2 separate regions of the Homo sapiens genome follow, and region 2 is reported to be linked to region 1. The links are microRNA targets in miRTarBase. Many come from high-throughput screens and were not tested one by one. Region 1 holds a microRNA gene; the other region holds the end of a gene's coding sequence.

Region 1 (4,185 bases):
TGTTTACTTCTAGCTTTGGGATGCCCAGCGCGAGCCAGTCCAGAGCCAAGACTCAGGAAATGCCCGCTGATGGCAGCCCGGCAGTCAGCCCCTGTCCAGACAACAGGGCAGTGGGAGGAGTGGGGAGGACCCGGGTAGGAGGAATCTGGTTATCTGGTTCCCACCAGCCTAGCAGCTTTGCCAAGCAAGAGATTAGAGGCTAGGTCCCCTATGCCTGTCTCCCTGTGGGGTTTTTTTTTTTTTGACTAAGTCTCACTCTGTTGCCCAGGCTGGAGTGCAGTGGCGTGATCTTGGCTCACTGCAACCACCATCTCCTGGGTTCAGCTGATTCTCTGCCTTAGCTGCCTGAGTAGCTGGGATTACAGGCACCTGCCATCGTGCCCGGCTCATTTTTGTATTTTAGCAGAGACGCGGTTTCACCATGTTGGTCAGGCTGGTCTTGAACTCCTGACCTCAGGTGATCCGCCCGCCTTGGCCTCCCGAAGTGCTAGGATTACAGGCGTGAGCCACCACATCCGGCCTCCCTGAGGGTTTTGAAGTGGCTGGCCTGGGCCCAGCTCTGAGGTAGGCCCTCAGTGGGGTGTGGGTGGGGCAGAAGGAGGAGCTGCTGGGAACAGAATGTGGGGGGCCCCAGTTCTTTGCATAGTCCAGCAAAGGGCCTTATCCTCTGGAGGGAGAGGAGGTAAGAATTCTACTGGGCCTGTAAGGACCAGGGAGACAGGGGTTGATGGTAGGCATGTGTCTGTGGTGGGGGTGAGGAGGGGGTTAGGTGCTCTGTTTGGTGGCCAGAGAATGTGGCAGAAGCTGGGGCTTCACCAGGAGAGAGGGCTGAGCGACTGGAGGAGTCCTGAATTAAAAGCCTCCTGTGCTTAAACGGAGTAGGGTCCCAGTTGTCACTCTCTGGGCCTTGGTGTTTGTTCTCAGATGGTGGTGGGGAAGGGGGCTGGGCCTTGTGGACCCGGTGACCAGCCAGCCCACGGTGACAGAGCCCCCGGCGCCCTTGCCTTCCCGCAGCATGTGGTCCTGTACCCGCTGGTGGCCAAGAGTCTCCGCAACATCGCGGTGGGCAAGGACCCCCTGGAGGGCCAGCGGCACTGCTGCGGTGTTGCACAGATGCGTGAACACAGCTCCCTGGGCCATGCTGACCTGGACGCCCTGCAGCAGAACCCCCAGCCCCTCATCTTCCACATGGAGATGCTGAAGGTGAGGGGCCACCGCGCCTGGTCTCACCAGGCCCCCACTGCCCAGCCTCAGGGCGGCGCTGGCCTGTCCACCCAGGGGTGGTGGGATCCGCAGGTGGACTGCTGGGGGAGCGGACAGAGACAAGAAAACCTGTGCAGGACCCTTGGCAGTACCCTGGGTCTCCTTTCCTCCTCCTTCACATCTCAAATGTCACCTCCTCCAGGAAACCGGCCCTGCCCACCCGGTCTCCTCATTCTCTGTCTCGCAGCAGCTCATTTCCTTTATAGCCTCTGCCGCACCTTGAAGTCCCTTGGAATTCATGGATTTCCTTGTCCATTTAGGGAACCTGCCATGCAGCATGATCTCTGCGAGGGCAGGGCTTTTCACCGTCTTGTTCACTGTTCTATTCTTAGCACTTGGCACAGTGCTGGGCACACAGGAGATGTGACATCGATGTTTGATGCTTTTTGAGTGACAAGTAGCTCTGCTGCTGGTGTGTGATGTCTGGGGGCCCAGCCAGCCCAGATGTGGGTCAGGTCTGCTGCTGACGGACGCAGCTGTGGTGTCCCCGAGCCCCGCTGTGATATGCCCCATGCCCTGCAGGTGGAGAGCCCTGGCACGTACCAGCAGGACCCATGGGCCATGACAGACGAAGAGAAGGCAAAGGCAGTGCCACTTATCCACCAGGAGGGCAACCGGTTGTACCGCGAGGGGCATGTGAAGGAGGCTGCTGCCAAGTACTACGATGCCATTGCCTGCCTCAAGAACCTGCAGATGAAGGTACTGCCTGGAGGCTGAGGGGGAGGATGGATGGAGGGGGGTGTGGAGCCAGGGGGCCCAGGTCTACAGCTTCTCCCCGCTCCCTGCCCCCATACTCCCAGGAACAGCCTGGGTCCCCTGAATGGATCCAGCTGGACCAGCAGATCACGCCGCTGCTGCTCAACTACTGCCAGTGCAAGCTGGTGGTCGAGGAGTACTACGAGGTGCTGGACCACTGCTCTTCCATCCTCAACAAGTACGACGGTGAGCACCGGGCCCTGGGCTGCCGGGGGCTGCGAGTGGTCAGAGAGTGGCCTTTCTCCTGTCACTGCTGGGGTCAAGACCTAGCCTTTCACAACCCCCATTCTGAGCTCCCACGGGGGCCTGACTAAATGCCTCTACTCGGCAGGGCTGTGGGCCCCATTGTGCCAATGAAGCATGAATGGTGTATTGGGGGTGGGGTGGCATCCTCAGGTCAGGGAGGGCTCTCTCTCCCCTGTGGGCCCATGGTGCCAGGAGACATGAGGGCAGGCAGCTGGCCAGGATCCCCCCTCATGCCCTTGCATGCCCACTGCCCACTGGCCTCCCCTGCAGACAACGTCAAGGCCTACTTCAAGCGGGGCAAGGCCCACGCGGCCGTGTGGAATGCCCAGGAGGCCCAGGCTGACTTTGCCAAAGTGCTGGAGCTGGACCCAGCCCTGGCGCCTGTGGTGAGCCGAGAGCTGCGGGCCCTGGAGGCACGGATCCGGCAGAAGGACGAAGAGGACAAAGCCCGGTTCCGGGGGATCTTCTCCCATTGACAGGAGCACTTGGCCCTGCCTTACCTGCCAAGCCCACTGCTGCAGCTGCCAGCCCCCCTGCCCGTGCTGCGTCATGCTTCTGTGTATATAAAGGCCTTTATTTATCTCTCTCTGAGTCTGCTGAGCTGCTCCACTGGGAGAGCCGGGTCATCACCTGGCATTCCTGGTACTTGGGTGGCTGTTGGGAGGCAAAGAATCAGGGTTCAAATCCTAGCCCCTCCACCCACCAGCTCTGAGGCTCTGGTGTCCCTGTTAGAGAAATTACGATGAGCTCTTTCACCAAGGAAGTGTCTCTCGCTGGCCAGGGCTGGGGCGCCCCAGGAGCCCACAGTCTTAAGGGGGAGATGAAGTGGGTACAAGCTAGGTAGCTGGGCACCTGAGGGAGGTAGTCTCCTGGTGCTGCCCTCCCACTCCAGCCTCGGATCCCATGGTCTCCTGGCCTCGGTGTCTGGGGGCAGGGTTTCCATGAGAAGCTACGCTGGGGCTGAGGTGAGCCGGGTTGGGCTGGGGTGGGCTGACTGTCCAGAAAGAGGAGAGGGCCGAGCGCTTCGTGAGACCTTTTGAGGCCCAGGCCCCCATCCTGACCTGCCTGTGACATGGATGGCCCTGGGCGTGGGTTTCGTGCGACCTTTTGAGGCCCAGGCCCCCATCCTGACCCTGCCTGTGAGCTGGATGGCCCTGGGTGTGTGTTGGCCTCTCTGTGCACATCAGTGTCCCCTGTTGAACTGGAAACTGGGCTGGCTGCCCTGTGATGCCAGGCATGGGGTGAGTGGGTGGGGTGCAGGTGGCGTTTATTTTCATGGATTTATACACACTGGAAAAGCCTCTGCGCCCATGCCCACGCCCTCCTCCCTCCCCCCGGCGCTGGGTCCCCTCATATGAAAGGGAAGTAACACCGAGGAGCACACGGAGATATAGGGTGTGGGGCTGGGGGGGCCAGCGCTGGGGCCAAAAGTCTGGGTCCCCAGCCTCCCACACGCAGCCCCTCGGGCCCCTTGGGTGTGTCAATAAATAACCCAGGTCCAGGCTGGTGTGGGCCTCACTCCTCGCTGTCCAGCTTCAGGCTGATGCTCCGTGCTTTGCCCCGTGCCAGGGTGGTGGGTGGTGTTCCCGGGCCCTCACGCTCCGCCTGGCTGGGGCCCCTCGAGCGAAGCAGCTGGCTCTGTTTGCGCAGGAAGTCCACGGGGGCAGCCACACCATAGCTGCTCTTGCCCAAGGCAGCTCTCGGGGGTCCCGAGGAGGCATGCGAGTGCGAGCCCGCTTCCAGCTGGCCCAGGTGGGCCACATAGCCGTCTGACAGGAACTGTGGGCAGAGGTAGGCAGCGATGAGGGGGTGCTGGCCAAGGGCCCACACGCTGCCCTCCACGGTCCTCCAGAGGCACCTGAGGCAGGCTGGGGGACTGGTGGCAGGCTTGGCACAGCCTGAGCTGAAGCCTTCTCAATA
Region 2 (4,102 bases), not on the chromosome of region 1:
CCAGGGATGACCTGCTGCTCTTCTCCCCCAGTCTCCTCGGTGGCCCCAGCCCCCCAAGCACTGCCCCTGGGGGCAGTGGGGCCGGTGAAGAGAGGATGCCCCCTTCTTTGCAAGAAAGAGTCCCCAGAGACTGGGACCCCCAGCCCCTGGGGCCTCCCACCCCAGGAGTCCCAGACCTGGTGGATTTTCAGCCACCCCCTGAGCTGGTGCTGCGAGAGGCTGGGGAGGAGGTCCCTGACGCTGGCCCCAGGGAGGGAGTCAGTTTCCCCTGGTCCAGGCCTCCTGGGCAGGGGGAGTTCAGGGCCCTTAATGCTCGCCTGCCCCTGAACACTGATGCCTACTTGTCCCTCCAAGAACTCCAGGGTCAGGACCCAACTCACTTGGTGTAGACAGATGGCCAGGGTGGGAGGCAGGCAGCTGCCTGCTCTGCGCCGAGCCTCAGAAGGACCCTGTTGAGGGTCCTCAGTCCACTGCTGAGGACACTCAGTGTCCAGTTGCAGCTGGACTTCTCCACCCGGATGGCCCCCACCCAGTCCTGCACACTTGGTCCATCCATTTCCAAACCTCCACTGCTGCTCCCGGGTCCTGCTGCCCGAGCCAGGAACTGTGTGTGTTGCAGGGGGGCAGTAACTCCCCAACTCCCTCGTTAATCACAGGATCCCACGAATTTAGGCTCAGAAGCATCGCTCCTCTCCAGCCCTGCAGCTATTCACCAATATCAGTCCTCGCGGCTCTCCAGGGCTCCCTGCCCTGACCTCTTCCCTGGGTTTTCTGCCCCAGCCTCCTCCTTCCCTCCCCTCCCCGTCCACAGGGCAGCCTGAGCGTGCTTTCCAAAACCCAAATATGGCCACGCTCCCCCTCGGTTCAAAACCTTGCACAGGTCCCACTGCCCTCAGCCCCACTTCTCAGCCTGGTACTTGTACCTCCGGTGTCGTGTGGGGACATCCCCTTCTGCAATCCTCCCTACCGTCCTCCTGAGCCACTCAGAGCTCCCTCACACCCCCTCTGTTGCACATGCTATTCCCTGGGGCTGCTGTGCGCTCCCCCTCATCTAGGTGACAAACTTCCCTGACTCTTCAAGTGCCGGTTTTGCTTCTCCTGGAGGGAAGCACTGCCTCCCTTAATCTGCCAGAAACTTCTAGCGTCAGTGCTGGAGGGAGAAGCTGTCAGGGACCCAGGGCGCCTGGAGAAAGAGGCCCTGTTACTATTCCTTTGGGATCTCTGAGGCCTCAGAGTGCTTGGCTGCTGTATCTTTAATGCTGGGGCCCAAGTAAGGGCACAGATCCCCCCACAAAGTGGATGCCTGCTGCATCTTCCCACAGTGGCTTCACAGACCCACAAGAGAAGCTGATGGGGAGTAAACCCTGGAGTCCGAGGCCCAGGCAGCAGCCCCGCCTAGTGGTGGGCCCTGATGCTGCCAGGCCTGGGACCTCCCACTGCCCCCTCCACTGGAGGGGTCTCCTCTGCAGCTCAGGGACTGGCACACTGGCCTCCAGAAGGGCAGCTCCACAGGGCAGGGCCTCATTATTTTTCACTGCCCCAGACACAGTGCCCAACACCCCGTCGTATACCCTGGATGAACGAATTAATTACCTGGCACCACCTCGTCTGGGCTCCCTGCGCCTGACATTCACACAGAGAGGCAGAGTCCCGTGCCCATTAGGTCTGGCATGCCCCCTCCTGCAAGGGGCTCAACCCCCTACCCCGACCCCTCCACGTATCTTTCCTAGGCAGATCACGTTGCAATGGCTCAAACAACATTCCACCCCAGCAGGACAGTGACCCCAGTCCCAGCTAACTCTGACCTGGGAGCCCTCAGGCACCTGCACTTACAGGCCTTGCTCACAGCTGATTGGGCACCTGACCACACGCCCCCACAGGCTCTGACCAGCAGCCTATGAGGGGGTTTGGCACCAAGCTCTGTCCAATCAGGTAGGCTGGGCCTGAACTAGCCAATCAGATCAACTCTGTCTTGGGCGTTTGAACTCAGGGAGGGAGGCCCTTGGGAGCAGGTGCTTGTGGACAAGGCTCCACAAGCGTTGAGCCTTGGAAAGGTAGACAAGCGTTGAGCCACTAAGCAGAGGACCTTGGGTTCCCAATACAAAAATACCTACTGCTGAGAGGGCTGCTGACCATTTGGTCAGGATTCCTGTTGCCTTTATATCCAAAATAAACTCCCCTTTCTTGAGGTTGTCTGAGTCTTGGGTCTATGCCTTGAAAAAAGCTGAATTATTGGACAGTCTCACCTCCTGCCATAGGGTCCTGAATGTTTCAGACCACAAGGGGCTCCACACCTTTGCTGTGTGTTCTGGGGCAACCTACTAATCCTCTCTGCAAGTCGGTCTCCTTATCCCCCCAAATGGAAATTGTATTTGCCTTCTCCACTTTGGGAGGCTCCCACTTCTTGGGAGGGTTACATTTTTTAAGTCTTAATCATTTGTGACATATGTATCTATACATCCGTATCTTTTAATGATCCGTGTGTACCATCTTTGTGATTATTTCCTTAATATTTTTTCTTTAAGTCAGTTCATTTTCGTTGAAATACATTTATTTAAAGAAAAATCTTTGTTACTCTGTAAATGAAAAAACCCATTTTCGCTATAAATAAAAGGTAACTGTACAAAATAAGTACAATGCAACAAAATAGTGTTGATATTCATTGCCTGCGGTAAACCTGTTGTCTCTTAAAGGGGAAATGAGAAGCTGCTGGGGAGCTGTCGAAGACATCCCAGGGCCAAATGCAAACTTCCTCCTTGAGAGAAAGGAAAAGGATTGTAAAGGGAATATCTTTTTCACTAATAGGAGTCAGGACTGTCTGTCTTATTCTGTGTCCAGGTATCAGCTCATGGCCATATCCCACAAGTCTATGCCTGGGGAAATATTGCACTTGATGACGAATCTCTCTCTCTCTCCTCTCTCTCTCTCTCTCTCTCTCTCTCTCTCTCTCTCTCTCTCTCTCTCTCTCCCCCCCCCTCTATCCCCCTCCCTCCAGATAGGTAGATAGATGATAGATAGATAGTGTCCTGATAAAAGTTGGACCAGACCAGGGATGGCAATTCCTGGCATTCATAAAGCCACACTCATGGCAGACATTACTAATCAATTGCACCCATGCACGGCAGACATTTCTAATTGAACACAGCTCTCCTCCTGCAGAGCCTGGGTGCAGCTTCAGATTCTGCAATGCTGCGCTATAGGCAGCCCCCAGTTGGTCACAGCTGATAGCTGATGACATCTCTGGACCGCATAATTCCTCAGGTTCCTAACACAAAAGGAGCTCTTAGGTTTCCCAACTCCGATTTCCCAGGCAGGGAAAACTGAAGCTGAGAGGATGGAGACTGGAAAGCTGAGAGGGACCTGTGAGAGGCAAGCCCAGGGAGCCCAGCTGTCCCCACCATGTCTGGTGAGAGACTTGAGCTGGCAGGGAGCAGAGTCAGGGCCACCTTATACCGGGTGCAGATGAAGGGATGGGCCAGCGGTCACTGTGTGTCATGCCCAGTGTGGATCCGAGTGTGGATCTTGGGAGAGGAGACAAAGAGGAAGCAGCTGGCGGCAGGGGTGGTGGTCAGATTGCAGGAGGGGCCTGGGTCAGATTCAGGAGACAGGAGCGGCACCAGCTGGGGACCGGGCAGCCGCTGGGGCCCTGGAGAACCGTCAGGTACAGAGCGGGAAGCAGGAGGCAGCCAGGGCAGATCTTGGGGGTAAGAGAAAAAGGAGGAGAGGTGGGGGGAGGGGGGGGCCTTCCAGCCTCTCATGTTTCCTCTTTGTTGAACTAGGTTTGTTATTTTGCTTCCTCCGTTCCCCCACCTCCCATCTCTCATTCGAAGCAACTTCAGGTGCCTGCATTTCCCAAGTAAATTATGGTGGAAACTGTAGGCCCAGGTCCAGGATGAAGCACCCACCACTGTCCTCCTCATTACTGACAGCTGAAAAAACAGACCAAGGAGGACAGTAAGAAGGGGCAAGAGAACCAATACTTCCACTCTACACATTGTGCCAGCATGGCCTGGGCGTCATCTCTCATCATCTGGAAACAACCTTGAGAAGCAGGTGCTTTATTCCCCATTTTGCTGATTAGGAAACAGGCCCAGGGAGGTGG

Evidence for each region. Region 1 holds the annotated microRNA hsa-miR-6752-5p (GGGGGGUGUGGAGCCAGGGGGC, at 1,998-2,019, shown strand). A microRNA usually pairs through its seed, bases 2 to 8, with sites in the 3' UTR of a target mRNA and lowers its output. Matches are read on the target gene's strand: a 7mer-m8 pairs with bases 2 to 8, a 7mer-A1 pairs with bases 2 to 7 and ends in A, and an 8mer does both.
Region 2: the mRNA of IL2RB is a reported target of hsa-miR-6752-5p. Seed matches in the 3' UTR shown: 7mer-m8 at 998-1,004.

The regions. Positions count from the first base shown.
Region 1 is chr11:67,488,253-67,492,437 of GRCh38, forward strand. It overlaps MIR6752 (microRNA 6752), which reads left to right and starts at 1,993; the gene lies at 1,993-2,063. AIP (AHR interacting HSP90 co-chaperone) reads left to right here. Exons shown (of 6, transcript NM_003977.4): 3 at 1,015-1,203; 4 at 1,786-1,962; 5 at 2,064-2,205; 6 at 2,536-2,851. The coding sequence ends at 2,741. PITPNM1 (phosphatidylinositol transfer protein membrane associated 1) reads right to left here. Exons shown (of 24, transcript NM_004910.3): 24 at 3,516-4,044. The coding sequence ends at 3,781.
Region 2 is chr22:37,124,383-37,128,484 of GRCh38, reverse strand. IL2RB (interleukin 2 receptor subunit beta) reads left to right here. Exons shown (of 10, transcript NM_000878.5): 10 at 1-2,642. The coding sequence ends at 389. Among named protein-coding and RNA genes, the nearest start is that of TMPRSS6, 17 kb to the right of the region's middle. RefSeq lists an enhancer at 1,288-1,337.